Linked DNA regions of Homo sapiens: regions 2, 3, 4, 5 and 6 are each linked to region 1. The links come from fine-mapping of genetic effects on plasma protein levels. A gene starts in region 1. Each other region holds a variant in brackets. All regions are shown on one strand. Distances are between the middles of the regions.

Region 1 (5,072 bases):
CTCTTCAAGCAGGATTCTTCTAACTATAAGATTTGTTGAGCTAGCATTTGCCGGCAAGCACTGCACATCACGTTCTAAATATTCCTATTATTTCATCTTCATAATAGCCTGGGAGGTATGTGCTGCTCTAATTGTCCTCATTTTACAGATGAGCAAATGGAAGATGGGCAAGTTCAGCGCTTGCCTGGAGTAATTCTGTTCATACGACTCGTAGACAGGACTTAGATGTAGAAAGTTTGAATTTAGAAAAATATCCAGCCTGACAAAAATAATCTGTGAACGCATTTTGTGTAAATATCCAGCAAAAAACAGTTATGCATAACCTAATTAAATAGAATGAATATCAACTGTAAAAAAAAGTTACAAATAAACTTAATTTGGTGAATTATACTTACAAAACAACAGAACACTTGACTTAGCCATCATTTTGACCCTGCCTCTTTATTTTCCTGCAGGCCTGTTTTTCCATTCTTGGGGATTTTAAGTTGGCACAGCTCAGTGGAGGCTGGCCCCGAAGTCAGGAGATGTGGTCCAAAGCCCGGCTGGGCGATTAACCCTGTGGATCTCAGCTTCTCCTCTTCCGGGCGAGCATGAGCCTGAGGGTCCCAGGGCTCCCCAGGTCCCTTCCAGCAATTGGTCACACCCTGCTCTAGGTTGAAGGGAAGACTGAGACCCCAATTCTTCCCATATTTAGAATATCAAAGGCCGTTAACTTCTCATTGTTAATCCAAGGACTCTCCCTCTCCAGAAACAACATTTGGTAACCTGGAAATCCTCACCTTCCAGGAATAGAGAAACATTCCTCAGAAGAAGAGAAATGCTTGGCAGCACCTGCAGACCCCCCACCCATCTGCTGCTGGGACCCCCCCCCCAAACCATCTGCTCCCCCCAGTGCCGCCCCAGGGGTCCTTGGTGATTGTTTCATCTGTCCTGGCTCCGGAAGCAGCACGGCCTGCGGCCGGAGTCAGCACCAGGCTGAGCAATGCTGAGCACCAGCTGTGCAACCTAGGGAAACTTACTTAACTTCTCTGTCTCAGTTTCCTCATCCGTAGAATGAAACGTAGCGTCATGTAAAATGCCCACCTCATCGGGTTGTCATGAGAGATGAATTCGGCAAATGAAACTTCACCAGGGGCTGACTTAGCCCAGCGAGCCACAGGCATGGGTTACCGGAGCAGAATGTGCCTCTGGGTCTGGGGCGCTTTCTACTCTAACTGCCCGAGGCAGCTGCAGTAATAATGGTGGTGCTGATAGGGCCTTTCTATGGAGCTCTTAAGAGGGTTTAATGACAGGAGCGAACACTTGGCCATGAGCTTAGAACAGTACCTGCATGCAGTAAGCACCACAGAACGGTGTTAGAATACACAGCTCAGGTACAGCCTTGGCAGGCTCTTCCCACCTCCCCACCTCATCAGCCCACACTGCCGGGTACGTCGCAGTCCCCTAAGGACAGCTGTGTGGGGCTGGCCCTGCAGAGGCCAGCCAAGAACAGGATGGTAAATGCGAAAGTTCTGGATGCCCAGCTTCATAAGGACAGGTTAGAAAAACTAAATCAAACTCCTTTGACGAAACCAGATCCTACTGTCTCTGCCTTGAGGTAGATTCTTACAAGAGCAGGAGGCTAACAAAGCATCCCCTGCTGCGGATTGTCAAAGGACAGTGAGGCTCCATCCCACAGGAAGGATGAGCAGCCAGGCTACCTGGCCTCAGCCCATCCAGGGACACCGGGCATGCATGGATGGAGCCACGGATGAGCCAGTGCCGCTCACCCCTGCCCCAGCCTCTGCACGCCACACATCCACGTTTATGCTTGTGTTTTTCCAAAAGAAAGATTTCGGTGCCTGTCTGCAGCAGAATGTAGTTTGAATTTGCAAAGGTCTTTTAAAACTCTTTTCGTATGAACAATCAAAGTAAAAGATAGCTTTGCAGAGAGCTAATTGTTTACCGGCCGTCCACCACCAACAGCAGTCTGATTAAACACCAGACTCCTGGGTGCTCAGCTCCCAGTCCTGGGCAGCCAAACCCACCTTCCTTAAGTGGTAGCCAGGCAACCTGCCAGCTCGCTTTTCATATGCAAACTGCCCCAAGACTGTTAAAAGTCGCTGTGTGTCCCGGCAGTCACAGGATTTTCCATAGACTTACCACAAATACTCTCTAGTTATGTTCAAAACCACTTTTCAGCTGCTAATAATGTTAACAATCAGAGTCTCTCTTTAATCTACTAATAATGTTAACAATCAGAGTCTCTCTTTAATCTACTAATAATGTTAACGATCAGAGTCTCTCTCTAATCTACTAATAATGATGTTAACAATCAGAGTCTCTCTCTAATCTCCAGTTACTTTTCAGATATTCCGGGAGTTGTTTCTAATTCTCTCCTCAATAACAAACTCTCATGTGGAATCTTCTTCTTCGGAAACTGAAAACATAAAGCGTTTACCCGGGTTCCCAGGCAGGTATATACATTGAAATAGCAGCAGCCACAACCCTCAGAGAGGAAGGGGTGCCCGGCTGGTGAAAGCACAGCCACGGAGGAAAAGCTGAGGAGCGGCCACGTGCCTTGCTCTTCAAGCGGGCAGTAGAAACACCACGTGAAGAAACACTTGCCATTTAGTGTTAATAGATACACCACCCACCTTAAGTTAAGAATCGAAATTGCTCCTTTTTCTTCTCCGCTTCTTAGAGTTCGAGAACTCTAATTTCTTAAAATTAGAGCACCATTAAATAATTGATTGAGTTTAAGAAATAATCGTACCTGGTTTGCCAAAAAGATGCAGTGATGACTGGTTTCAGTGTTCCGGACCGAGTCAGAAAGGCGCAGGCTCTGCTGGAGCGAGAGACCGGCCCTGCAGTGCAGGATGCTCCGGTGGACGTGGCCGAGCGGCTCCCGGGCAGCGCGGCTTTATATGCCGCTTCTCCTGTGCAGGGCTGTCAATCAGACACACGAGGAAGCACGTTTAATTCATTCCTTCGAAGGAATGACATCATCCCCCTTCTGATCTCACCATTTGCTCCGAGTACCTGCTGCAGGGGTCCAAGTCCAGCCCCTCTGTACTGGATGCCGTCTCCTCCTCCTGCACCCCGGCCCCTGCCAGACAGGCCTGGGAGGAGCCAGACGGAGAGAGGGAAGGCAGGGACTCACTTTTCCTGTCTTCTCTCAGGAAATAAGATGCTATAAATAACACTAGCAAGATTGGCTAGAACTCCTCATTTTGCTTAAGAGAAAAAAATGCAAGTTCTATGCCTTAAATATGTTTCGAATTACTCAATGTGATATTGGTCTTTCTAAACCAAATGAGTGACTCTCAATAACACATGAAATACATCGGTGAGTATCAATAATCAGTCTGTATATTAATAAAGTTATTATGGTCAATAATCAAGTGTATTATGTGACAAAAATGAAATTTAATATAAAAGGAAGTTGCCAACATTTATCTCAGGCAGTTAGAGGACTGAAAAGCTGTACTGCAGCTTTGGGAAAATTCATTTTTACCCAAATTCTGCTTCATTTGCTCAGTGAGGATCCCCTAGAAGGACGTCTCCCAGTGGACGTGCAATACCCGTAGAAGGGTGTGTCCCAGTGGACGTACAGTACCCGGCCAAGTCCCCTTGGTGCACACTTGCACGTGGCCCCATCACAGGAACAACCTGACGTGCAGGCACAGAGCAAGGACTCGAGAGAACGAGAAGCAGTGGCAGCAGCTAACCCCCGCCCCTCCCACACCTCAGGCATCACCCGCAATCAGGGTGCACTCTGCATGGGGGTGGGGGGCACCGCTTCTCAGAGGTCAGGGTGGACGATGGATGCGGAGGGGCTGCTTCTCCCAGGTCAGGGTATACAGTGGAAAGGGGAAGCTGCTGCTCTAAGGTGGGGGTTGATGGTACATGGGGGAGGGGCTGCTTCTCCCAAGTTGGGCTGGACAGTGGATGGGGGAGGTGCCACTTCTCCCAGGCCAGTGTGAAAGGTGGATGGTGGAGAGGCTGTTTCTCCCAGGTCAGTGTGCAAGGTGGCTGGGGATGTGTTGTTTCTCCCAGGTCAGGGTTAATGGCAGACAGGGGAGCTGCTGCTTCTCCTGGGTTGGGGTGGACCTTGGATGGGGGAGGTGCTACTTCCCCAGGTGGGGTGGATGGTGACTGGGGAGCTGCTGCTTTGCCCGGAGCCACCTGCACCTGCTTCATGTCGGCACCTGCCTGTCAGGTTCCTTCACGTTTGTGTGGAGTTGTCAGCCTGGCCATGGATCCGTCAAGTCCTAGTTAGAGAACATTAAAGCGAATTTCTGTGGACACAACCCTTACTGTGTCTGTGGCAGGGGAGTGTCTCTTAAGCCTCCTGGCATTCCCCCACAGGGGTCCAGCGCTGCAGAGGTCGGCAGGCACCATGAAGAGCAAGCCTCACTTTCTGGCCTCTGTCTTCAGGGAGGATATGCGAGCGGGTGTGGGAGAGGGAAGGAGCTTTCATTTGTGAAAACCTCTGTTTTTCCTAATGGCACCTGTTTATTTATCACTTGGCAAACATCAGTTTCCGACACATGCACAGACAAAAGCCTCCAAGAGTGTATGTGTCATGTTTAAGGTACGTTATTTTGCTTTTTAAGCTATTAGGGACAAAGTCATCATTTGAATTAAAAAGTAGTTTAAATAGATTGATGTTATCTCAAATTCAAAAAAAGTATAAACCAGTTCCCCTTAAAGAATTTTCAGTGGATAATTATCCATTCATCAGTTTGAGTTTTTCTGCCTCCAGGTTAGTTTTTCCTGGGGCCAGAACATGGAGGGCGGCATCCCCTACTCTGCGTGCCACGGCCTCTCCTGTTCCTCAGTCCACAGAATGCGTGTTTCCTGATTAAAGCTGAAGACAGGCAGCTCAGCTGCTCAGCACTTCAGGAGCATGCGGTGAAGACCGTGACACTCACTGGGGAGCAGGAAGGTATGTATTCATGACTCCACGTGCCGATGGGCAGGTACAGAGAAGATGGGCCTCCTTCTGTAAAATCTGGCAGCCCAGAATCAGGGAAGTCTGTTTAGAGGAGACAGAAGGTAAGCCGATTGGAACATGGCCCGTGAATGGG
Region 2 (5,072 bases), 26 kb before region 1:
CCGTCCAAGTCCTCCTGGTCTGGGTTGAACACAAGCCGGCAGTTGTCCCTGTCATCGGGGACGCCATCGTTGTCATCATCAGGGTCACAGGCGTCGCCCTGGCCGTCTCTGTCATGGTCAGCCTGGTTGGCGTTGGAGATGTAGGGGCAGTTGTCCTGGTTGTTCTGGTGGCCGTCGTCATCTATGTCCTCGTTGTTGTCACACTGGTCCCCAACAAGGTCATTGTCCACGTCGGTCTAGGGGATGGGGCGTGAGAGAAACAGCAGAGGACTGCCAGTTTGAGGAGGTGGAGAGGAACCAGCAGGACGCAAGCCTGAGAGCCGGCCTCCTCGTCCTGCAGCACAAGCCCCAGGGCCACGCAGGGGCGGCTGGCCCGAGGTCACACTGACCCTGACGTCAGGACAAGCACTGGGGCCAGGCCTCTCGGTCCAGGAATCTCTCCACCCTCTGCCACCTCTCCACAGTAATTCACTTCACTAAAGGAAGATGTGCTTCTTCGCTGGAAAAGCATGAACTACCAGGTAATTATGTCTCTTTTTTACACCATTTGCGCCATTTACACCATTTACATCATAGGATAATATATCCTATGAGCTGCATCAAGATAACTGTCCTCCCTTGTCTCTTTCAAACGCAAACCTGGAAATGAAGCCAATTCCTATGTTGGCATCAGGAAAATGGGGAGAGAATTCTGTGAAGACACAACCTCGCTCCAGCTGATGAGGTGAAGGCGTCTATTCATTTGGCCTGTGGCCACTGAGATACAAGAATAGTGCTGAGATTTGAGTTGAATAAATGTTTTCAATTGAAATCATTGAAAACTCCATGTTATCCTGTCTTTGTGGAGCTCATGGAAAACTCCCAAGGCCCCATGGAGGGGACTGATGAGGACCTGAGACCCGCCTGCCCATGGCTGCCCTCATCTGGTCAGGGTTGTGCACCAGGGGCAGTTGTCACAGTGATCCCCCACACCGCCACCGTCCCCGCGTCCCTCTGATGAGGACCTCCAACCCCGCCTGTCTGCGGCTGCCCTCACCTGGTCAGGGTTGTGCACCAGGGGGCAGTTGTCACAGTGATCCCCCACACCGTCACCATCCGTGTCCCTCTGGTCAGTGTTGTAGACGTAGGGACAATTGTCTCGTTCATTGAAGACATCTGTAAGTGTTTAAAGGGGGAAGAAAACAAAAACAAACCAGAAGGACAGGTGAGTTTAGAAAAAGCACATTGTTTTTCCTATCACACGAAATTGCTTACAGCCACACTTCTATTTAATTATAATAAAAAGACGCCTAAGAATATAGTAAAATATAAAGACTATTAGATTTTAGAAGAACATATGACATATTTCATTACAGTTCAAATACCTTTCATTTGAAATAGAACCAACTTTTGGAGATTTCTGGGTAATGTTGCAGGAGGGGTAGTTGAATGTGCTGTCGCCGTGTAAATCTGAGCTTGCTAAATTGCTTATTTCTCCCTAATACCCACTTGGAAAGTATGTGTTGAGTTCCCAGGAGTTTATCATCCATGCACATGAGTAGGAAAAAAACAATGGCAGAGAGTGGCAGGGTTTTTAGATGTCATATCTTATCTTAAGAAATCTGAAAGTGATGAGTTGCATTGATACTGAAGTTACAAAAATATAAACTAGCACTGAACTAAACAATACCATCAGTGACAGTGTCACAAATGACAGAGCAAAATGTTACACGGCAGCGAGTCCACAGGAAGAGCCAGAACTGAGCTGAGACGCTCGCCTTGCTTTGGTCAGGTGAGGTCTGGAGAAGGGAAGTAAGGAACACCTAAAAAATAAAAATGGAAGGGACTGGAGCTTGAGATCTGCATCCAGCACATCACAGACGCCATCCTGGATGGGGAGCCGAGGAGCCCCCTGGCCACCACGAGCCCTCAGACAGCAACCCACCACATTCCCAGAGAACGAGAGGAGGGTGGAGGCAGAAATCAGTGGAAAAGATCAGACTGAGAAACCCGCTGTGAGACAGAACAGCAGGTTGGGGTGGCTCAGAAAGGGGGTGGCTGGCGCCGGGCTGGGAAGAGGACCCCACGAGGCGAAGTGTGGAGGAGCTGGGGCCGAGCTCCAGCGTGGAGGCGAGCCTGCCCCCAGCTCTTGCTGGTTCTACAGAAGCACTCGCCTGGTCTCCAGGCACCCCAAGAGAAGGGATGACCATGCGGTGACAGTGGCACTGGGTTGCAGAGCTCGCTTACCAAGGCCAGCGAACTCTCCGGATAAAGCAGCAACCGGGATCAGTGGCAGAGGTAACCACAATACACCCACGTTATTCTAACTCCTAGAAGCTCAGTTTGATGAAAACATGAAATGGCTTCTTGGAATTTTTGAATGAAGGGTGAACATTAGAAAAGATGCCATGAAGAAGCACGAGGCCCAGGACTGCAAGGCTGGGGTCAGAGAGAGGAGGATACCAAATGCATAGCTTTCTCTAGGGCGGTCCTGTGGCTGGTGTCCCCTGACCTTCAGGAAAAGGCAAGGCAGAATAAGCATGGGTCCCTATGGGAATAACTGAATGAATCATTTAATCTTATAGTAGTGTAAAAATGAAAGGAGCTTATCAAAATTCAGAATAAAACATGAAACTTGCCAATGCCTCCAATTGCGACCCTTAAAATGCATGCATTGGGCC[G/A]GGCGCGGTGGCTCACGCCTGTAATCCCAGCACTTTGGGAGGCCAAGGCAGGCGGATCATTTGAGGTCAGGAGCTTGAGACCAGCCTGGCCAACATGGTGAAACCTCGTCTCTACTTAAAATACAAAATTAGCTAGGCGTGGTGGTGTGCACCTGTGATCCCAGCTACTCAGGAGGCTGAAGCAGGAGACTCACTTGAACCCAAAAGGTGGAGATCGCAGTGAGCCAAGATGGTGCTACTGCCCTGGGCAACAATAGTGAAACTCCATCTCAAAAAAAAAAAAAAAGTGCACGCATGGGAAGGAGCAGAAGCACCCACCGTCCCCATCAATGTCCACGGAGCAGGCGTCACCCTCTCCATTGTTGTCTGTGTCGATCTGGGCAGGGTTGTGCACGTAAGGGCAGTTGTCACAGCGGTCCCCAACCTCATCCTTGTCATAGTCAGCCTGGCGGGGATTGAAGAGGAGCTGGCAGTTGTCCTGGAAAACCAAGAAAGGGAAGACTTTAACGAAGATCATAGGAATGTGTGTCGGGCCGTTTAGCACTTATAAGTTATGTACTCAAGGTTGATGAAAATCAATATAGAAATCAAACAAACACAAAAGCCAGTTAGGGCTGGACGGTGGCTCACACCTTTAATCACAGCTGGGCACTGTGGCTCACACCTGTAATCCCAGCACTTCAAAAAGCCAGTCAGGGCAGGGCACGGAGGCTCACACCTTTAATCCCAGCACTATGGGAGGCTGAGGCGGGCGGATCACCTGAGGTCAGGAGTTCAAGACCAGGGCCGGGCGCAGTGGCTCACACCTTTAATCCCAGTGCTTTAAAAAGCCAGTTAGGCCCGGGCACAGTGGCTCACACCATTAATCCCAGCACTTTGGGAGGCCAAGGCAGGCGGGTCACCTGAGGTCAGGAGTTCGAGACCAGCCTGGCCAACATGGTGAAACCCCATCTCTCCTAAAAATACAAAAATGAGCCGGGCGTGGTGGTGTGCGCCTGTAATGCCAGTTACTCAGGAGACTGAGGCAAGAGAATCGCTTGAACCCAGAAGATGGAGATTGCAGTGAGCCAAGATCATGCCATTGCACTCAAGCCTGAGCGACCAAAAAAAAAAAAAAAAAGAGTTAGCCCTCGCCAAACACTTTTTCCATATCAAATCATTTTATCATTATTTATGCATCTGTCTTTTGTTGAAAATTTGTAGATTGCTAAGGCAAAAATGGTATATCATACACTTCATGGTGAGGAGAGATATGTAAATATCAAATAAATGAATGGATTAGTGAGTCAATGTCTCCCATCAAAGTCAGATGTAAAAAAGCAGTGAGTAAAATCTTGATCTATTCTTGCTAGAGCTGTTTTGTGTACAAATACATTAAACCATTTGTGTTTGCAGCAATTTTCTTAGAAAAATGGTAATATTTTAAATGTTGCCATAAAGGCAAGTCTATCACTCATGGTGGTGTCAGCCTTGCCCATCACTGGCTCCTCAGCAGAAGGAGAGGAGGTCTTCTATTTTTTTGCAGTTAAAATAGAAAAAATTATTCAAAACATTTCCGGCAGCACACCCTGGGCAGCCCCATGCACTGAGGTAAAATCCGCTTTTGCAAAGGACTGTCTTTATAGTGACCTTTGGGAACTGCCTATGCACAAACGCTTGCAGGACAATGGCAGTTACGTTGACAAGGGCTGTTTGGTATAAAGTGGCCTCCTGTGGACCTCGCTGCTCCTGGAACCCAGGGCAGGTGCGCGGCACAAGCTGCTCCTACCTTCTCATCGGTCACACCGTCATTGTCATCGTCATCATCACAGGCATCGCCAATCCCGTCCTTGTCAAAGTCTTCCTGCCCAGAATTTGGCAGATGGGGGCAGTTATCCTGCAATTGGAGAAGGAAGAATACTTGGAAAAACATTTAGGAAAGCGCCTCTTTCAGGAATGCAGGTGAAATGAAACCAGCATGGCGCCGAGGAAGGAAGCGTGCCCCATCAGTCCTCGATCTCAAGCGGGAGCTGAGAGAGGAGCCAGGAGGCCAGAAGCGCATGAATTTCTTCTCAACTCCTGCCCTGGAAATTATGTCACCACTACTCACGAGGGAGACAAAAGAAACTTGTGTTCGGAGCCCAGAATCCCAGTGAGGTTGCCAAACAACTGCAGAAACAAGAAGAGAATGACAAGGTATTGCTCTGAGAGAACATGGGAGAGAAAAGAGGCTTTAGTGGTGCTTTCCTTCCCACAGACTTCAGCTCATAAATCAAAATGCCAAAGCTTATAAACGTTTAACCCTCACCAGTCAAAAAATCTCAAAGAAAAGAGTCTTTCAAATATGTATGTGATATGTTCAGAAACCAGGGCTGAGAACTTGAAATTATCTGCTAACTCAGCTTTTCACGGTGAGTGGGTAATGCATGTAAT
Region 3 (5,072 bases), 65 kb before region 1:
GTACACGTTGACATCACTGAAGCCAGGCACTGACCAAGCCTGAGTTCATGCAACACCATCAGCACACAGCCTGGTCTTGGCCTCCTCATGAGTTCTTTGCGAGGCCACGCATCCAGGTACCTGTGTTCCTGCACGGAGGCCTCTAGGTTCGCAGGAGACCCAAAGCAACGGGCCGTAGGCTCACTCAGGAGCAGCTCCTAGCTCCCCACTCCGCCACGGCCCTGCGGGAAACAGCGGAGGTAGAGATGTGGTGGTAAAGCAGAAGTGTGAGAAGCTACAGTCATTTTCCTTAGGGTTGGTAAATTTCGTGCCGGCCACCATGGCCATAGGCTTAACCCAAATTAATAAAGCCCAGTGTAAAGCGTGCTTAAGTTTATACACAAATAAAGTTAAACCCCAACTAAGCCATGAAAAGCTACCGCTAAAATAAAAACAAACTGTGAAAGTGACTTTAGTGTGTTCTGAGCATGACAGCTAAGACCCAGGCTGCGGTCAGCCACCCCCTACGCCTTGCCATGAGCTCAATAAAATGAGCAGTCACCGGCCCGAGTGCCGCCAGCAGCAGCCGGGACTGAGGGCAGCGCTTCGCTTCCTCGGAGGAGCCCACTGTGCCATCAACAAACCCTGAAGCCCCCACCGGCTGCTGCTGACCCGGCCACACGCCACCATCTTCAGCAAACCCTACGATGGCCGCAGAGTGAGCACCAGCATTTACACAAAAACATCAGGTCCAGGGGTAGCTCTGAGGTGGAAAGAAATGGACCACAGAACATTCCACCCACAACAACCTTTACGAAATTAAAGGCCAAAGGAGGATGTGGCAGAAGTTAAGAACAGACAGCGTAACTGAACAGGGCCATGACCACACACACGCCACCCACCAGCCGCCTCAACCACCTCCACGGACAGAAGCTCAGGTGTGGTGGGGGTGAGCCTGACGAGGTGGGCATCCTGGAGAGCAGGTCCGGGGAAGCCCCGTGCAGCCTCTGCACGGCACCTGCTCACACCCGGGAGACTTCACATTGACTCCACCACTCTGAACACAAACTAGTCCCAAATCAACAAAACTTAGCAATTATATGTATTTAGACCAAAACATGTATTCACAACAAAAGGTATAAGAGATAGAAATTTATTTAGGTGCTACGGGACACGTACTGTAAGAGAAAGATGACAGAATAATTTAAAGTACAAAAAAAAGCAAAGCTAATCCCTTATACCATTTGCATAATAAATTTGCTAGAATGATTTTATGAAGAGAAATTTAGCTAAAACCTCTGAAAGCAGACAAGTTACTTATGGACGGTTGCAAGAACAAACTCTCCAATGTGGCAAAACGTGAGCAGAACCAAGAGCAGAGAAAAGCCATCCCGACCTGGTGATCCTGCTTATCCAGAAGAGAATCTCAGCTCAACTTTAAATTACCCCAAGAAGTATACATCTTAATGTAAGTTTAAATGTTGATCTAAAGAGGGACAGCTCCTTAGAAACAGGAAGCAACCTTTTATCCAGAGTAATTTATTAAATTTCTGGAGTTGTTTAAAAGTAGCCACCAAATAAGAGCGTGTTCAAGTTAAACACTCAGCAGACCTTAGTTTCAGCTCTCTCTCGCCTCTCTACATTTTACTGGATTAATCTATTTATAAGTAGAAGAAATACTGTTAACACAGTAACGAAGAGCAAATTCTCCTTGTATAAGCTTGTGTTAGATCACACATCCACTGATAGGCAACAACTGGATAAAACTAAACTAATTGAACGATTGTTTATTCAAATAATTGTGAACCCAACACAGCCATGCACTTAAAAAAGATTTAAAAAGTCAAAAGAGTCGAGCAAATGTAAACCCTGCAAATGACCGCAAAGCTGCGGGCAGGCTGTCACCCTGTCCCCCCGCTCCCCGTCCCCCCTGTCACTGTCCCCCATCCCCCTGTCCCCCATCCCTGTCCCCAGTAGAAGGCCACCAGCCATGGACAGCACGTGGCTGGTGCCTCCCACAGCTGCCCGACCTCCACACAGAGGAGAGCTCTGGAGAGGGAAGAGCCTCCACCATCCAGAGCAGACAGCATGGGGCGAGGGGGCGTCTCTGGACACTCACGGAGATGAACGAGGCCTGCTGGTGAGGCTGCCTCCAGCAACAGTGAGTGAGGAGGTGCTGCC[G/A]GGGTGTTGGGGACCGCTGTAGGTGCTCTCTGAGTCACATGAGGTTTTGAAGGGTTTTGAGGAGGTGAGAAGACACTCAGAGCTTTGTTTTCAGAAGATCCCTCCAGCTGCTGGTAGAGAATGGAGGGAAGTAGGCCTGGGAGCGGGAAGCCCACTGCCTCTGCCCCAAGCTGCAGAGTGGCCATGGGGTTGGAGGGAAGGAAACTGAGCCCCAGTGTCCCAGGAGGCCTTGGAGACTGGCTGGATTGGAGGGGAGGGAGGGAGAATGCCAGAGGAAGACTGACAGCTCAGTCTGGAGACAGGTGAGCAGTGGGTTTGCAGCTGTTCCCTGCAGTGCTACCCACAAGGGTCCCCAGCGACAGCAAAGCATGACACCAAGGAAGCTCACATTTTGAGAATTTTACTTATAAATATCAAAACCACATGGACTCTGGTGACGTCATAATTCACGGTAAACCTCAGCTTTTAAACCAGAGGCTCAGACAATGGTGTGAGTCGCTGACTCACTCGGCAGCTGCAAAGTAAGGGGCGAGCTTGTTTTCCTTGAGCACCTGCTTAGGAGTCCTTTCACAGAGGTTTTTTTTTTTTTGGAGATGGAGTCTCATTGTGTCACCCAGGCTGGAGTGCAGTGGTGCCATCTCAGCTCACTGCAACCTCCACCTCCCAGGTTCAAATAATTCTCCTGTCTCAGCCTCCTAAGTAGCTGGGATAACAGGCATGCACCACCACACCTGGCTGATTTTTGTATTTTTAGTAGAGACCGGGTTTCACTATATTGGTCAGGCTGGTCTTGAACTCCTAACCTCAGGTGACCCACCTGCCTCAGCCTCCCAAAGTGCTGGGATTATAGACATGAGCTACCACGCCCAGCCAGGAGTCCTTTCACAGAAGTTCTGTTTCACAGTAGCACATGGTATACATTGTGGGGCTAGAACGAAGAAAGTGCAACGTTTCCCATATTTTTTGTCTGTTGGAAATGTTACACTAGACACACATCAATTAAGGTGACAGAAAAACTTGTGCAGCCTCCTGGAACAGTGAGCCTTTTTCCTTCTCGATCACTGGGAATAGACATCAATGGGGTTTTGCATATTTCCCTCTCACAGAAATCCTACTGGGCACTTCAGCGTAGCTTACACAGAAAGGCAGGTGCTGCACTCATCACCGAGGGCAAAGAGACACTCACAATGGCAGCTGAGCCGCGGGTGGGGTGTGCTGGGCAGAGCATCAGCTCCTGGGCTAGGGAGCGCAGGGGTGCAGGAGTTGATTTGGGATCCCATAGCTTCACTGGAACACTTTGTAAACTGCAAAATTGTATTTTTTGCAAGGTGGAATTTATTTACTCCTTTCATTTTCTGGGCTTCATTATTCAAATAATTAGTTAAGAGGATCAAAATATGTGTGTGATACTCAGCACATCAGACAATATTCTGCTTCTCATGGGCAAACACAGGGGTGTGAAATTCCTTATCGTTAATAAAAGCAGCTCTGTGGGACCCGTTACGTCCCCAAGCCGGAGCACCACGCTCCTGTGTGGCCTTCCCTTGTGGTTGTCGAATGTTGTCGTTGTTTGCCAAATGTTGGAATGCTTCTCTGTAAAAGAGTTTCTGGGAAAGTACCAAATCCTGAGCCCTGAATTCGTCCCTACTCTATTCACATCCTCCTCACTCCTCAGGACCTGTGAGCCTCAGAGCCACCAGGCAGGGCCTTAGCCTGCATTGTCAACACCACAGCCCCCTACCTAGAGAGTCTCTGGGATGCCACAGGCATGAACAAAATATGGCAGAAGGGTTGAGTGAGTGAATTAATACATTTTCATGATTATTTGACTTCAAAATATTTTCTAAGGCCACATGCAGTTACTCCCTCACTGTGGGATTCATCCACCTTCATAATACTCAACCCCACCCTCCCACACACACAGCAAGGCTTCCTAGGACAGGCTGAGCATCAAGCTTGGGGCTGCCCCATCTCCAGCTTCCCAAGCCCTGAAGCTCAGACATGAATGCTCTGGTCCTGCCCAGTGTCTCCCGGGCCCTGATTTGCACCAGTCCCAAACAAAGCCCTGCACCTCCCGGCCCTTCCCCCGGGCAGTTCCCTCTCCCCCATCAGTGGACCTCAGCACCGCGCCAGACATGCCTGTGGGAGCCCTGTGTGCAGCCAAAAGCAGCCCAACCGTAGGAATCTGAGTTCTTCCTGCCTTGGGTCATCGTTATCGAGCTTTTCTGGGAAATTTGGGATCTTAGTGTCTGGCAAAATTTATATTACTTATTTAAGGCAAGTGTTGCAATTTTCCATTTCATAATCAAGTAAAAGCTAGACATATTCTTACTAGCCATTAAGAGAACCACAAATGATTTGCTAATTTTTTTCAAAGAAATATTTTTATTTCATATGTTGGCACAAAATGTAATAGTTATTTCTGGGTTTGGAGCTTTCCCTGAATAAGAATTCTGGATTTAAAATGTTGAAGACTATTTCAATTTTAAAACTAAAAGAAAATATGCAGAACACTATGAAAAGTTTAATACTGCATAACTTAATGTTATTAAAATGTGTAAAACTTGCAGCATATTAAACTATAAGAGAAACCCAAACTCAAAAAAAGCTACACAAAAGTGGCTACAACTAAAATGGACCTAACATAACTCAAAAATTTCTACTTCTGGCCATAAAACAGTAGATACGGTCTCTGAAACCCCAATGTGGCCCTGATAACAGTCAGTGTGGAGTTGTTAGCATACCAAGAGGAATTCAGCGAAGGGAGGACAGAAAAGCCATCACACTGGTCACCCACTGTGGGCCTCCTGAAATTCTCACCCTGTCTCTGCAGACCTGCCGCACAGATGAGAAAACTGAGTTTCCAGAGAGCTGAATGATTTGGAGTCACACAGACCTACAGCGCGTGTCCC
Region 4 (5,072 bases), 95 kb before region 1:
AAATTAGGCAGGTGGTGATCCCAGGGGACAGAGTTCCAGGAAGAGGGGAAAGCAGTGCCGAGGCCTCTAGGCAGGAACACCCATGGGTGTGTTCAAGGGGGAGCGAGGAGCCAGGGTGGCACAGCCTTCATGATGGAAGGAACTCCCCATGGAGAGGAAGGAGAGGAATAGGACAGCCATGGGAGAGCCACTGCACTCACTCAGGTGGGCAGTGATGGCGGCTCCACCAGGGCGTCACCAAGGAGGGAAGGAGGTGTGTCTGGACATGCACTAGGAGGGTAATTGGACGGACTGGATGTGATGTGTAAGATAAGGGAGAATTCAGGGGCTCTTCAAGGTTTTCGGCCTAAGCAACAGAAAGGACGGCATTGCCCTCACCTGAGGTGGGGTGGCTGCAGGTGAGGACGGATTGGAAAGGGAGATCAAGAGCTCAGTTTGGACATTTTGAATTATCCATGTCTACTGAGAGGAGAGGTTCGGTGGACAGACCCTATATGAGTTTTGGGGTCGGGGAGTGGTCTGAACCTGAGGTATGAATTTCGGAGTCAGAGGTGTGAGGATGGTGTTTAAAGCCATGTGGACAGAGAAGAGGAGTAAATCCGGGAATGAGTCTGTGGTTCCTTCGATATTCAGAAGCTGGGAACAGAGGGATTAGCAGAGGCAGCTGAGAACCAAAGAGCGGGACCCTAGAGGCCAAGTGAAGAGCAAGGAGTGAGCTGAAGACGCTGTCGGAGTTTCCCTGTGTGCTGACAGGCCCGTGGAAGGGGACTGAGAGGCACCGCCGGGATCACCCGAGTGCTGCCCCCACAGACACAGAGTGGTATGGACTAAATGGTGGGGGTGACGGCTGATGGGAGTGGGTGCAGAGCAATGGGGACGTAGCTTACTGACAGCATGGGTTGGGAGAATCTGTTCTGTTTTGTTTTAAGATGGGTGAAATCACATGTCTATCTGCTGTTGGGAATGACCTGGCATCCGTGGTTCATTTTCCTTTGTTGGTAACAGGCTCCCAGGGTGCTGTACACACACCCCTCCCTCGTGCATTTCAGAGGCTCCTCACCAGGCTTGTGATTCACATCCTTGAAGCAGGAAAGGCATGGATGGTCGTTTGATGCAATCAGCCACATAGTGCTATCTGGGAGTGACGGCCGGCGTCCAAGACAGTCTTCCCAGGTCCTGGCCTGCTGTGGCTCTCCCTGCTCCAGCCTGCCTGCCTCATGCTGGGGTCTGTGTGCTCAGAATATGGCAAAAGGGGGGTGTGGGCTTCTGAGACCAGGCCACAAGTGGCCGCAGCTTCCTGCCAGGCAAATCCTTGCCCTCCTGGATCACTCACTTGGGAAGCTGAGGTTTCTGATGGCCGCAGGAGTGTGCTTGGAAGCCTCACCTCCAGTCCCATCCAGTCTTCAGATAACTGCAGACCCAAGGGACCCCCTGAGCCTCAGCCAGCTAGTCAGCCAGCTAGGCTGCTTCTCAACTTCTGAGCCCAGAAACTGTGTGAGATGAGAAAGGGTTGTTTAATCAGCTAAAGTTGGAGGTGAATGGTTATGCTGCAATAGATAACCAATTCTCAGGGACAGATAGGCTTGGTAGACTGGAGATCTTGTCAACCTGAAGCACATGTTTTCTTTGAGGCTAGTTTCTACCAAGAAAAAACAGAGATGGAAGATTCTAGACCACTCAGTGCCAACTTTTTTGTATGTTTTATTTCTGTGTCCTTGCGGAGGTCACTCAGGCAAAAGCAGTGGTCTCTTGGCCGTTTACACACATATGACAGCATGTTTATCACACACTTGGTTACTCTCTGCAATGCTCCCTGTGGCTGGCACTATTCACCGTTTACGTCCTCACCACCCCATCAGGAAGACATGTAGGTTTAATCCCTACAGCCAGAGATTTCTGCAACGCCAGGGCACAAGCTTCTTACGTCGTCTTTGAAGGAGCACAGATGATTTAAAAGAAAATAACACTAATAGCCAACAACCGGGGACCCCTTCCTGCCTTATGGAAGCTTCCCCCACAGAGAATCCCATTTAATATTCATAGGAAGCCAATGAGGCCTCTGTGGCTCCCACTGGCCTGACAAGGAAGAAGAGGCCCCGGAGGGCACGGAGCCCGCCTGGAGTCAAAAAGCCAGAGACTGCAATGATCCCAGTTGCAAAGCTGGCACAACAGGCTGTACCCTTTTATGGGAGGGTCACTGCCATGCAGGAGAGGGGAGCAGTGTGGGTTGTGTGAGATTTCCTAGAGGTGCCTCTCGCCATGGCCCTGCCAGCACCTCTGGTGGTTCAATTATCACCGAGGAACGGCTCCAAGTCTGAAGGGTTTTTTGAACCTTTTCCCTGCTTTTCTTGCAATGAGAACTCTGAATGAGGGGCAGAGGAGAAGCAGATGCCAAATCGCCGAGAAGCACTCCAAGCCCTCTGGCAATGGAGTTCCGAGAAGAAAGAATGGGGCGCAGTTTCCAGGTTCTGCCTGCCCCTCCTACCCCAGCACTTCCCTCCCGCCCTGAACTCCTTCCACAGGAAAGGCTATGAAGCCCACCATCCCTGTCTGAGGTAGACCGGGCAGAAAACACGCAGGTTTTGTTGCGAAGTGGAATGTGCTAGTGTGCTGTCTGCTCAACCAGTGTCTTCTGCTTTGATTTCATTTTTATTTTTTTAAGAAGAAAATAAAAATCTCAAAGACTAAGTTCTCATACTGTAATTCCTGGAAATCATTCTGGAGTCAAATACTTTTGTCTGTTAAGAAAAAAAATAAAATGTAGAGATTTCCTGCTGCTCCGGGAGTGTCGCCAGCAGACAG[G/A]GGTTTCAGGCTCCCCCTGCCAGAACTTCTGAGCAACGTGGCAGCTGCCGGGACCGGGCCTCTGAGTGCAGAGAGCAGGCGTTGCCAGGAGCGGACTCAGACAGTGGAGGCCCCTCGCTGACCCTCTCCGGGGCCACTGCAAAGGAAGAAGAAAAGCACAGGCATCAGCTTCAACAATGCAAAACAAAGTAAGCTTGAATTCAGATGAGGGGCAGTTAAAATCGCAGCCTAGAAGTCCAAGTGTGGTTTGTAACACTCCAAACCCCATGTCAGCCTTCAGTGATTGTTCTGCTGACCATGTTGCTACAGAGCGGCTTGGGTTTTTCCTTGTGGCAACTCCCCAGGGTGACAGATTATTCGGCAATGTCACCATTTTGTAGATGTATTCGGGATTTCCAGCCATAAGCCATGGATGATATTGGGGATCCTTTATTCCTGGTGGGTGCCCATAAGAGTTTGCAAACTATACCCAAAAGGGCACGGGAACCCCTAAACTTTCCAGGCTGTCTTGGCACACGGCTCACTAGAACTGTTAACGCCGTCAAAGTATCTCTGACACGTCCTTAGCCTGTGTTTGAAAACCTGCAGAGATGGGATACGCCCCTTTACCAGAGACAGTGCATTCCGTCCACTGGGAGTGACACACGGCCAAGCCAGGCTTCAAAGAGAGAGGTTCACCGTATTCCAGTAGTGACTACTGGGATTTAGGGTTGGATCACCTTACCAGAGCTTGGAAGCTGCTAGAAGTTAACATTAATTTTATTGTTCTTTAAAATGAAAGTCCAGCAGGAGGGCCAGGATTTGGGCATCTCGGTCCTTCACGAAAAGAAAGGGTGATGTTGATTAGCCATGTTCCACATCCCCCGAGTTAAATATAGGAATAGTTCTGACATCTGACTCAAGAATGTGTTTTCTTGCATGATATTAAGGCAGATGCACAGATCCACGTAGATTAATCCCCTTCACTAGTAGCAGGGGCCCGATGAGGTAGCTGATGAGGAAGAGCCCCCGAGACCAGGCCCAGCGTGGGGCCACGGCCTTGGGATCTGGACGACACCCCAGCGGTTCTGTGCCGCCAGCAGGCCCTGCCGCATCTCTGGGCTGGAGCCCTGACTGTCAGCAGATGAGGCCATGGGTTGGGGTGTCTCTCCCACCAGAACGGCTTCGTGGGGTGCTCACTATCCCCTGGTCATGCTTCGGCACAGCTGGCACCGGCTCCCTGAGGGCCCACTGATTGGTTTTACACAAGTCTGTGAAGCTTCCCACAATGCACGATGTCCTTAGCAAATACAACACAGCCCGCTGGTATCGCCTCTTCCTTCACTACCTCCACAACCACTTGTGGCAGAGGAGGAGCCTCCAGTTGCACTTGGCCAAGGCGGCTTTTGTAAGAACTTGACGGGACCAAGCCACCCCCACGGCATCATTTCCACGGGAGAACACATCCCAGCGAAACTCCAAGGAAAGGGTAGTTTTGTGAAGAAAATGCTTGTGTTCTAGGACACAGCCCAGCAAGTCCCTGACTTTAAAAAATGTGTAAGAAACAGGAATGTAACATTGACGAAACATGCCTGCCAAGATGGACTTTCCTTGTGGCGAGACCCTTCCTTCTCCTCAATGCCTGGGTGCTAGCAGGGTAGCATCCCCAGCCTCAGAGCTCAAGCGTCATGATTGGGGAAATGAGACTGGGCAGCCATTCGGAAGGCCGGGCAAAGAAGAGTGTAAAGAGACATTGGTCTCGTGCTGCAGAATGAGTTACAAATAGTGAATCCTCAGCAATACTGTCTCCCCGTGGACTGGAATTTGGACCCGCTGCTGTGGCGGGCAGCTTTGACCCAATGAGGACCACGCCTGGAAGGATGTCAGAGCAGCAGGGACCTGGGTGGAGTGACCTGGTGGAACGGAGACGCCTGCCGGCTCAGCAGCCACAGCAGCAGCTGCCCGTCATGGGACAGCAACGTGGCAAGAATTCCCCACGGGTTCCGGGGGAGCCTGTGTTGCTGGACCCTTTGCCACACCACCGAACCTGGCCCAGAGGAGCAGGAATTGGCCGAGTTCCAGGCCCTGCACCTGACGGGGGCTTCCTCAGCCTCTCATGTGATCCTCGCAGCAGGCTAACGTGCAGGCCCTTCTGTTTTCCAGATTTGACAGTTGAGAGGGGAAAGCCATGTTTTCAAATGTTACAGTAGAAGAGGCAGGATGCAAATCCAGCCCTGGCTGGTGCTGAAGCTGGGGCAGGTGCATCTGCAGGGTGCTGCCTTCAAGGCAGA
Region 5 (4,973 bases), 32 kb before region 1:
GGGTGGGTGGGTGGATGGATTAGATGGATAGGTGGATGGGTGGGTGGATGGATGGATGGATGAGATAGTTGGGTGGATGGGTGGTTGGATGGATGAGATGGGTGGGTGTGTGGGTGGGTGGATGGATGGATGGTTGGGTGAATGGATGAGATGGGTGGATGAATGGATGGATGGATGGGTGGATGGATGAGATATATGGGTGGGTGGATGAATGATATGGATGGATGGGAGGAAATGAGATGCCTTGAAAGACATCCTAACATAAGGAGAAGAAAACCTCCACAGAAGCAAGCAGATAAATCAACCCCAACAGGGTTTTGCCCTGTTGGCCAGGCTGGTCTCGAACTCCTGACCTCAGGGGATCCACCCGCCTTGGCCTCCCAAAGGGCTAGGATTACAGGCATGAGCCACTGCCCCCAGCCAAACACATGATTTTCAATGTGTGATTCTTGAGAAGCATCCTGAGCCTTATTTACTGCATCTGTGGAAGGGTAATGCGCATTTGAAGGCATGGAATTAGAGCAGATGGAATTCAAGTTATCTTCCAGGTCTATAATATTTTGATTCAAATATACCTGTAGCGAGATAACTATAGAGAAACTCCTTCCTTCCTTCTTTCCTTCCTGCCTGCCTGCCATTGCTAATGCAAGGGTACCAATCTAAAATGGCGTCAGGAGCCTGGAAGTGGAGGAAATCTAGGAAACTCTAGGCTATGGCACAATGAGGATGGGTGGGACCTGTAAATAATTGGAAAGTGTTCTACCAGAGGCATCCAAATGCAATTAAAAACAAAACAATCCAAGCTGACCAAATGAAATGGCTGCTTGGAATGTGCAGGGGGCTCATGTGTGGTATTGTGCATTAGGTTTATTGCCCTGATGTACAGCTTTTGTAAGTGGAAGAGCGCACTGTGTACCCCTTTCCCTTTCTGGGTGCCACATGCCTTCCCCACTAACCTGAAGTGCTCACACTCACCTCTGCATTCGTACTTGAGGTCTGAGAAATAGACCATTTCTTGAGAGAAGACAAATAGACCCAGCCGCCCGCCAGCGTAGGTTTGGTCATAGATAGGTCCTGAGTCTGCCATGACCTGTTTTCCTTCATGCACTAAGACTCTAAAAATGGTGTTTAAAAAGAAGAAGAGGAAAGAAAGACAACATGAACTCTGTGAAGCATTCACCAGTGATGGAAGGTTGGCTCCGGACACAAGCTGTGGATACTCCGCCCAGGGCTTCAGTGCCCCAGGGGGCATTGCTGGCTTTCTCCTTTGGAGCTCCAGCCACCCCTGGTGCAGCACTGATCCAGGGCACGCCTTCCTTCTTGCAACCACACTATTGTCACAATCTGTGAGTTCACTTACAGTCACCCAGGCAAGGGCTTTAGAGGAGACTCTACCTTTGGTGGGGTGAGGAGGAAGCTTCCCACTTCCTGGGAAGATGCACCGGACTCTCCCTACTTCACCTTGTGCTAAAACCATGAGCTCACCGGCTCTCCTCCCCACTGTGGAAGCTGCGTGGGAGCAGGACTGGATACACCAAGCCCCCGACAGGAGGATGGGGCATCAATATGAATAAACAGGAGGCCCCCTAGGGAAACGTTCCAGCGAGGCCACGAGCCTGCACTTCACCCACACAGATCTGCCCTCTATTGCCAGGGACTCACACACTCCTGGCATCTGTGCAGAGTCCAGCCTGATCTTGGTGCTTATTAACTTTGAAAAAACAAAAACACCTTGATTTTAAATTGACCACATTTTGTTTGAATAAAAATCAATTATAAATACTGTTAAGCCAAGGGAAAAGATTCTGTTGGGCTAACTGTGTCAAAACTTCATACAACCGTGTTTTAAATTCAGCCATTTATATCAGGTACAAATCTAGTCTCCAATAAAGCACATGCTAATTCTGCAAAGATGCAGTTATTTTAATTGCAGGTGTTCTCCCCTGCCTGGGGTATTCATTAGGAGAAAATATGGTTATCATCCCAAAACAAAGCAGATTGTATATTCTCCTTTTCAACCATTTTTTAAAAATACTTAATATTTAGTAGAGATGCAGGATAGAAAAGAGAAAGCAGTTAATGACGAAGAATCCAGAGTAAAACAAAAAGTTAGAATTCACTTGAGCTTATTTGTCTATTAATGTTCAAATGTGCCGTCCGATGGGAAGCCCCTTGGAAGAAATGCAGCTGTGCTGACCTGCCCTCACCTGATGTAGCCAGTCTTGGGCCTGTGAGTCAGGTGCCACCTATAGGCCGTGTAGTCCTTCCAGCCAATGTTCCTG[G/A]GGTCGTGCCATAAGGTTCGCACCTGAGAGAGAACATAGCACTCTTGAGTGCCATGGGCACCCGGAGCCTTAACCACAGCTCTGTAACACCAAGCAGGAAGCAAAAACATGACTTTGCAAGTTCATGCTTAAGGCTCATGGTGCTCCATATCTCTCTGATGTGTTTATCATCCAAATCTCTACTGTGGATTGAAGCCCATGGACAGAGTGTGGCTCAGGGCTGAGAGCCAAGGCACCTGACCCTCAGATTCCTGGATTGAAGAGCCCAGGCACCTGATCCTCAGATTCCTGGGTTCATGTCTGGATCTTCTCTTTCCTTGATATGGGATGTTGGGCAAAATTCTTGAAGTTTTGATATTCAATTCTCCCTAGCTTCAATTTTTAAAATATTTTTTTCATATTATATCTTTGATCATTATGTCCTATGCTCACTCCCTATCTCCAGAAGAGGGTAAAAGAGGTTTAATTTGTAAAAGGATTAGCAACTGTATTTAACTGGTAATTATCAACTGTGTTGAGTTGTAACCCCAGGCACAGTGTCTATAATAAAGTAAGATTATTAAAATAACTGTGCCTGGAGTTAAAATTAATAAAGACAAAAGTGGGGTCTCTGGACTGGGCTAGTCCTGCTGAAACACTCTGCAGCCACAGTGGTGCAGAGGAGATGTGTGGGCCTGGCCAGCCAACCTCACCTGCCCCGGCGTGTTCCCCGTGTGCCACAGCGCGTTCCTCAGGTGCTCGCCCGTCCCCGTGGTGGAGTTCACCACCTTGAGGGACACGCCGGAGTAGCCATAGGCCCGCGTGGGCTGGTCCTCCCAGTAGGTCTGCGTCACCTGCTTCCACATCACCACATAGAAGCGGCTGCTTGACTGGTAACCAAAGACGAAGCCGGCATAGTCGTCGTCCCGGTCAGTGTTTACGTAGAATGTGCCACTGAAGTCCACAGACCCAAACTCGTCAAAACCTGGATGCAACGCCATAAGGTTTCGTTAGAAACACCTTTCAGGTGGCCGGGAGTAGTGACTCATGCCTGTAATCCCAGCACTTTGAGAGGCCGAGGTGGGCAGATCACCTGAGGTCAAGAGTTCGAGACTGGTCTGACCAATATGGTGAAACCTTGTCTCTACTAAAAATGCAAAAATTAGCCGGGCATGGTGGTGGGTACCTGTAATCCCAGCTACTCAGGAGGCTGAGGCAGGAGAATCACTTGAACCGGGGAAAAAAGGTTGCAGTGAACTGAGATTGTACCACTATACTCCAGCCTGGGGGACAAGAGCAAGACTCCATCTCAAAAAAAAAAAAAGAAAAAAAAGAAAAAAAAAAGAAACAGGTTTCAGGCAATCCCCAGCTTGGCCCTGTGACCATCTGACAGTGGATGCCCAGCAGGCAGGGCGGGCTCCCCTCATCATCCCGATGGGCTCTTTTACCATGAGATTAGTGGAATTGAAGGTATTTCTTTTAGATCCAACTTACAAGAGTTCTGAGAGGATTATGAGGTCCCATTTCATAGACCAAGTCTATAAAATAAAATGGTTTACTGAAATTTCAGAGACTTCAGAGCGGCAGGTGCATGTACCTGTCAAGGTTATTTAGGCAGACAGTTTCACAGACCATGGAAGGATGGGGGCTTCCAGAAAGACCACATGGCATCCCACCTGCATGATCTTAAAGTGCAGTCTGCATCTTCTGTGGGCGCCTCCCCCGGAGAAATGCTGGCACCACCGCCGTGTCTCAGAGACTCACCTACAGCGATGCCGGGGTCCGAGTTGGCTGTCTGAACCAGCTCCTTGCCTTGATGGCGAATGACCCAGTTGGGATCAATTTGGGTGGTCCCTTTGGGATCCAAGGGGACCATCTGGAAGTTCCTGAAGTCTGTCTCACTGATGGCATTGTTTTCAGGACACACATCATCAATATCTGGGATGTTGTCATTGTCAAAATCATCTTTACAAATATCACCCCGTCCATCACCTATGCACAAAGAACAAGCAAAAACAAAAACAAAAACAAAGAAGCAAAGTCGGTGGTCGGTGGTTTGCCATTTGCTTTTCCGTGTCTGAGAAACATGAGTGCATCTTTCCCAGAACATCTAAGACTGAGTGCTTTGCAGTGTTTTGTGGATTCGTGCTCAACAATCTCCAAAACATTTGACTTCACAGGAACCTCAACTCTTTTCACAAAATTTTTGTGATAAATACACAGCAAAGGCCAGCACAGCAAATTCACATAAAGCCATTTCTCACCGTGTTCCAAACTCAATGCTGCAGGTATAAAACCTGAATGGCTGTCAAGTAATATCAACCTGCATTTCCAGCTTTGTGTTTGGATAGTTTTCTGAATGTCTGTTATTACTTTTCTTAGTCATCCTTGCCTTTTATAGTCTATTTGGCATTAAAGCGGAACTCACACTAAAATGGTTTTTCCTAGGGAGACATGGACTTCCGCTGTTTAGTGGGTCCTTGTCAAGTTTTCAGCGGGGTTGTGGCATGGTGGGGAGTGGGGATGAGGTGGGCCTGGTGCAAACAGGGGGACCACGAATTTGCCACATGTGTCCAGTCTATCAGTCTACGGCGATGACGATAACCTGACAGGCAGATTGCAATGTACTGAATTAGCTATCACGTGGCCTGCCGTTTTGGAGGAAAGGCAAGTTGGATTGAATATCTCATCATATTCTTCAACTAGTTTCCG
Region 6 (5,072 bases), 39 kb before region 1:
ACAGATATTATAATGAATTAGAATTAAATCTTCCAAACTATACACGAGGGTGTCTTTCCATTTATATAGGTTTTAATTTATTTTGGCATTGTTTTTCTGTTTTCATAGTACAAGTCTTCTGCCTCCCAAGTTACATTTATTACGAGGTATTTTATTGTTTTGTATGTTATTGCAAATGGTATTGTACTTTTAACTTCCGTTTTAAATTGTTTCTGTCTGGTATACAGACGCACAACTGATTTCCATGTGTTGATCTTGTTCTCTGACACTTTGCCAACTTTTCCACTTCTTTAAAATCCAGAATAAGTATGGCCTGAGACAAGGGAGGTTTGTGTATTCATGATGCATATGTATAGTCACGTGTATGTTGCTTGCGTATATACCATTCAATAATCAATACATAAATATAAATAATATGTATCTCCATTTTAACAACTGTAATTTATTCCTAAAGCCATATTTAAAAATAATTACATTTTTAAATGGGAAAAGTCGTATGAAGAATTCTGTCCCACCTCAAGATAACTAAACAATTTTTCAGTAGAAAAATAAATCTAAAAACAGAAAAAATATTTTAAAAGTAAATAAATCGTACATAAAACGAAGCGCAATCGAGTTTTGTTGCACTAATGCTTTCTTCCTCTTTCTACACCATTTTGTTTGCAGAATCGGCCTTTTGAAGGTTCCGGGTTACCCTGCAGTGAAGCTGTCATTCAAGCACAGTCAGGGCCCAGGAGAGGGCGCAGGGAGGGCGCAGGCGCGCAGGGAGGGCTGGGCATGCGCTCGGCGGGGCCTCCGGCTCTCGGGGACGCGCGCGGGCGGGGCTCGCCGGGGCTGAACCGGCTGAGCTTCCCAGGGACGCCCCGACCCAAGCCCTGCAGTCCGCGCGCGTCAGGGGTGTGCGCTGGAGGCCGGAAAGTCGAATATCACTTCCCATCCTGCATTTGATGTGCTTTGGGGTTGAAAAAGCCCTTATGTGGTAAAAAAAAAAAAAAAAAAAAAGTCAGAAAAGTGGCAAAAGTCTTCAACGGCCTGAAAAAGGCCGAGACAGGAACTGAGAAGCTGGCAGTAGGTCCTGCTACTGCTGCAGGGGCGGCGGGCGCCCTGGGTGGGCCACGAGGCAGGGACAGCCGAGGCTCCGCGCTCACCCCACCCGCAAGGGGCCAAGCGCAGACTCAGGGGAGCCAGAGGGGCCGGACCGCTGAGCAAGGGCTGGGGAAGGGTGAGTCAGGGGCCCCTGTGGGACTGCACGGGGTGGGGGGCACGGGCCCGGACCTCTCTCACAAATGCCCACGTGGTCCCCAAGGCTAACGCCGGCTGCGTGGGCCGCAAGCTGCTCTGGGCCCGCAGCTCACTCCCCTGGGCACAGGGCTGACACCCGGGCGAAGCAGGAGTGTCCCAGCTTGCTTCAGCCCCTCCCCTGGGCCCCCAGGCTGGTGGCTCCAGAAGGACTTTACTAAGAGGGTGGGAAGCATCAGTGCAGGTACCTGCCCTGGGCTAAGGGCCTCGTGTGGGTGATAGCCCTCAGCAGGGCCCTCCCATTTGGGCATTGGCAGCCCACAGGGCTGTGGCCGTGGAGCTGGAGTGGCAGCTCCTGGATCACCCCACACCTGCGTTCCTCAAGGCCTAGGCACCACTTGCTCCATGGTCAAAAGCATCACTTTGTGAAACGCAGACTGAGCAAAGCTGGCCTAAGATTTTGGTCCTCCAGGAATGACGGAAGGAGCCCTCTGCCCCCATGTAGCCTATAGCTGGGACACGCAGCAGCCAGTGAGTTGGTCACGGTATGAAGGCTTCTCTCCTCCCGGCAATCACAGATCCCACGCTTGGATACTTGGGAGTGAAGATGTGTTATTTCACCCACCGACTCGTTCCACACGACCAAGGCCTGTGCCTGCCCTGAGGGCGAGTTGGTTGAGCCTTGTACAGACAACTCTCAGAGCGTGGGCCTGGGCCGAACCTTTCCCTGTGAGCAGCAGCATCAGCGTCTAGAACGACGGCCCTCCCGGTCCACGGTGGAAGGTGCGGAGCTCCCGTGGTGTGCTGGCAGCGATTCGCAGAAGGGAGATGGAGGGCCACAGGGCAGGTGCTCGCACGGAGTCATCGAGGTCCAGGGACACCTTCCTCCCAGGTGAGCTCACAAAGGCACCACACATTAATCCTGGGAGACAACCATTCTGATGTGGCTAAGGCCATCGACAGGGAACATGATTGTCAGGAAACCTCAACTTTTCGATAAATGACAGCAAAACCTGAATGCAGGAGAAATGTATCTCATTTTAATGCCTGACTTCTAAGCATCCTTATTCAACATATTATATGTATTTTTTGTTTCATGAGTAAAATGTACATTGAGCTTCCTCCAGTAGCTGTCCATAGACCAGCCACTATCACTGCCATCATTATTTTGTTTCTAAACTTTTCTTTTTACACATGTAGGTCTAGCTTTTTCCTCCATATTGATGAACTAAAACTCACTCATTTCACAACTCAAAGCCAGGGCCTTCAGTTCACAGCCCGTTGCCTCAGACGGCCTTTCCTATATCTTATTGCTTCACTGTCTGACTCACTCCAGCGTGTTTCAGCCAAGTATACTTGTTTTTATTCATCTTGCTCTCTTTTCCTCCCTCCCCCAACTCCCCCTCTTTCCCTCTGTCTCTTTGTCTCTTTCTCTCTCCCCCATCCCTCCCTCTCTTCCCCTTTCTCTCTGGATGCCCTCTCTCCCTCTCTCCCTCCCTCTCTTCCCCTTTCTCTCTGGATGCCCTCTCTCCCTCTCTCCCTCCCTCTCTTCCCCTTTCTCTCTGGATGCCCTCTCTCCCTCTCTCCCTGTTTTTCTTCTCTGTGTCTGCCTGCATAATATTCAGAAATCCCAACAAGAGCAGCTGGAGCTGCTAAAGAAACCCCAGCGTTCTGTGCTGCTGCCATTGCCTCCTCCAACTGGTGAGCCCGATCGGCCCATTTTTAGGCAGTGCTGTGGTTGGAAATGGGCCCTTCCTCTGGGGTCCGCTACTTCCCTCCACCTGACTCAGAAGAATGAGTCAAGAGGGAAGAACAGCTCGTATTAGGGAGAGGGTCCCGTGTGCTGTTGCCTTTTTCGGAATCATTTCAATCATGTTTGCCAAATTCCCTACGAAGTTCTGTTCCCTCGTTTGACAATGAGCAGAGGCAGGAGAGATGAATTGCTAAATGGTTGTATCCCACACCGTGCTGGGAGGCTCAGCAGAACAGAGACCTGTGTCAAGCAGGGCTTCCTTCTCCACCAGGCCCTTCAGCCTGCATTTTAACCTGTGACTTGCGAGGAGATAGCCCGTGATCACACCACAGGCCTACTTACATGACAGGAAGCAAAATGCCAATTCCTTCTACCCCTTTCCCCCACCCCGGTAGAAACCCTGCTAGTTCTTTTTAAAAAAGGGAGAGAGATCATGTATAGAAAACCTTTTTTACAATTTATTTCCTGTTGTTAATCTTTAAAAATGAGGTTCTAGCTAAGTGCAGGGTTTCAGTGGTGAAATTTTGACCATGTGAACACATAAATAAATATTTACAGTCTTTGGCAAAACACATGACGTTTCATCAACCTATACGATAAATTTGTTTAGAAAAACATAAATAATTTACAAAAAATATGGTACATTCTAAATA[C/T]TCACATCATCGTCACTCCCACACCATTGTACGGTTGACCCCACAACACAGAAACAGAAAACCTGCACGCTGTTGACAGTCGCTACATTTAATGAAGTATCCCAACGCTTCGTTGGTCTCGGGAATACAGCTCCACACGCAAAAAAGTAAAAAGTGCAGCAAAACAACAACACAACGATCAACCTCAAAGGAAACAACAAAATTAATTTTATCAAAATGCAATGTGTACATTAAGACTAAAGTTATGGATTGTTCCTGTTTGGCATAGAAATGTGATGACTATTAACAGAAAGGGGAAAAAGATTTGCCCCCTATCCATCATCAGACAGACAGACTTCTCTTACTAAACCCCTTATGTGGAGTGGGATGAGTGACTATTTCCTGCAGAAAGATCATGCAACTTAAAGCAAAAAAACAAACCAACCAACAAAAAAAACAAAAACAAAAACAAACTTGTGCATATTACACATGACTGATTATTGGGTGTGCCTGGCAAGACTAAATGCTGATTCTTTTCAGCGTTTGAATTAAAAGAATTCCATATACAGCAGATAGATAACAGTAACAAATATTGAACTAAAATCGCTGGCAACATTATATATTTAAGGTTCCATCATAAACTCCTCATTATTCTCTATGTATTCTGTTACAGCTTCTAGCATGCTTCATCGTGACAACCTAATATTATCAAGCCTCATATTTTCACAGGATTATATACTTATTAGATGTTTGTTTCTAGAAATTATACTACATATGTGTTACTAGGCATATTTAAAATAAGTTACTGGTAAATGGAGTTGCATTCTATAGTCACTTAATAAATATTAACAAAATATTTATAACTGGAACCTTAATGAAATGTATCATCAAATCAGGTAAAAGCAACTTGTCCGCAGTTACCAAAGCCTAGATACGCGTTAGATGCGCCTTTTCCGGCCTGTGCGTCTGCTCTGGTTCCTCTCAGGCAGCAAAGCTGGGGAAGGAAGCTCAGGCAGGAGCCTCCCCGACGCCACAGCGGCACAAGCAGCAGCTAAAGCACCGCACTTTGCTCTGCTAACCTTTTACTTAAATGAGGTTTTGCCAAATCCACATCTGGAACCGCGTCACACCCATTTGCAAGGATGTTTGTTCTTTGATGAAACTGCATCTCTACTGCACATGAGGGCTTTCATTGTAGGACAAGAGGAGAGTTCGTTTATTTTTGTAACTGTTTTACATGTTCCGATTAGTTAATCGGTAGCTTATGTCATTTGCTATGCCTGTTGTCTTCTAATCTCTCCTTACTAAAACATTACTTCAAATTTGAATTGACCCTTGTTTATAATTTATTTAATGGGATTTGTGTGTCATTGTAGAGCAACTCTAATTCAAGAATAGTGACAACTTTAAGCACCAAAAGTAGTTCAGCAATATTTTTCATGCTTAAT

Which allele goes with the higher level. Alleles are on the strand shown, and positions count from the first base shown. The strength of an association depends on the size of the effect and on how common the allele is.
For the plasma level of the protein whose gene starts at base 2,878 in region 1, G is the high allele of the variant in region 2 and A is the other (weak association).
As copies of G replace A in region 3, the plasma level of the protein whose gene starts at base 2,878 in region 1 goes down (moderate association).
In carriers of allele A in region 4, the plasma level of the protein whose gene starts at base 2,878 in region 1 tends to be lower than with G alone (weak association).
For the plasma level of the protein whose gene starts at base 2,878 in region 1, allele A in region 5 goes with a lower level than allele G (moderate association).
For the plasma level of the protein whose gene starts at base 2,878 in region 1, T is the low allele of the variant in region 6 and C is the other (moderate association).

Evidence for each region. PIP is the chance, under the fine-mapping model, that this variant and not a neighbour inherited with it causes the effect. Protein levels are from antibody-based Olink assays in UK Biobank. Linkage for the fine-mapping came from a reference panel and not from the study's own genotypes, which makes the PIPs less certain.
Region 2: its variant is fine-mapped to the plasma level of the THBS2 protein (UK Biobank, PIP 0.93).
Region 3: its variant is fine-mapped to the plasma level of the THBS2 protein (UK Biobank, PIP 0.97).
Region 4: its variant is fine-mapped to the plasma level of the THBS2 protein (UK Biobank, PIP 0.93).
Region 5: its variant is fine-mapped to the plasma level of the THBS2 protein (UK Biobank, PIP 0.99). The variant lies in the coding sequence of THBS2. If it changes the protein, the assay may bind it differently, which can mimic a change of level.
Region 6: its variant is fine-mapped to the plasma level of the THBS2 protein (UK Biobank, PIP above 0.99).

The regions. Positions count from the first base shown.
Region 1 is chr6:169,250,969-169,256,040 of GRCh38, forward strand. THBS2 (thrombospondin 2) reads right to left here and starts at 2,878. Exons shown (of 22, transcript NM_003247.5): 1 at 2,756-2,878. RefSeq lists enhancers at 414-927, 1,440-1,952, 1,953-2,464.
Region 2 is chr6:169,225,144-169,230,215 of GRCh38, forward strand. It overlaps THBS2 (thrombospondin 2), which reads right to left. Exons shown (of 22, transcript NM_003247.5): 14 at 4,429-4,536; 15 at 2,979-3,138; 16 at 1,037-1,155; 17 at 2-236. The region is part of intron 2 of THBS2-AS1 (THBS2 antisense RNA 1); the gene reads left to right. It overlaps LOC124901470 (a long non-coding RNA gene), which reads left to right and starts at 208. Exons shown (of 2, transcript XR_007059889.1): 1 at 208-521; 2 at 652-811. RefSeq lists an enhancer at 1-89. The variant G/A (reference allele first, on the strand shown) is at 2,661.
Region 3 is chr6:169,186,105-169,191,176 of GRCh38, forward strand. No RefSeq gene overlaps it. Among named protein-coding and RNA genes, the nearest start is that of LINC02544, 5.9 kb to the left of the region's middle. RefSeq lists enhancers at 1,734-2,235, 2,236-2,735. The variant G/A (reference allele first, on the strand shown) is at 2,161.
Region 4 is chr6:169,155,519-169,160,590 of GRCh38, forward strand. LINC01615 (long intergenic non-protein coding RNA 1615) reads right to left here. Exons shown (of 2, transcript NR_132623.1): 2 at 2,574-2,938. Among named protein-coding and RNA genes, the nearest start is that of LINC01615, 4.9 kb to the right of the region's middle. The variant G/A (reference allele first, on the strand shown) is at 2,803.
Region 5 is chr6:169,219,223-169,224,195 of GRCh38, forward strand. It overlaps THBS2 (thrombospondin 2), which reads right to left. Exons shown (of 22, transcript NM_003247.5): 18 at 4,026-4,253; 19 at 2,975-3,246; 20 at 2,208-2,305; 21 at 976-1,115. All of the region lies in intron 2 of THBS2-AS1 (THBS2 antisense RNA 1), which reads left to right. Among named protein-coding and RNA genes, the nearest start is that of THBS2-AS1, 8.5 kb to the left of the region's middle. RefSeq lists an enhancer at 4,811-4,973. The variant G/A (reference allele first, on the strand shown) is at 2,283.
Region 6 is chr6:169,212,357-169,217,428 of GRCh38, forward strand. THBS2 (thrombospondin 2) reads right to left here. Exons shown (of 22, transcript NM_003247.5): 22 at 3,429-5,072. THBS2-AS1 (THBS2 antisense RNA 1) reads left to right here and starts at 856. Exons shown (of 3, transcript NR_134621.1): 1 at 856-1,222; 2 at 1,818-2,131. RefSeq lists a silencer at 595-944. The variant C/T (reference allele first, on the strand shown) is at 3,646.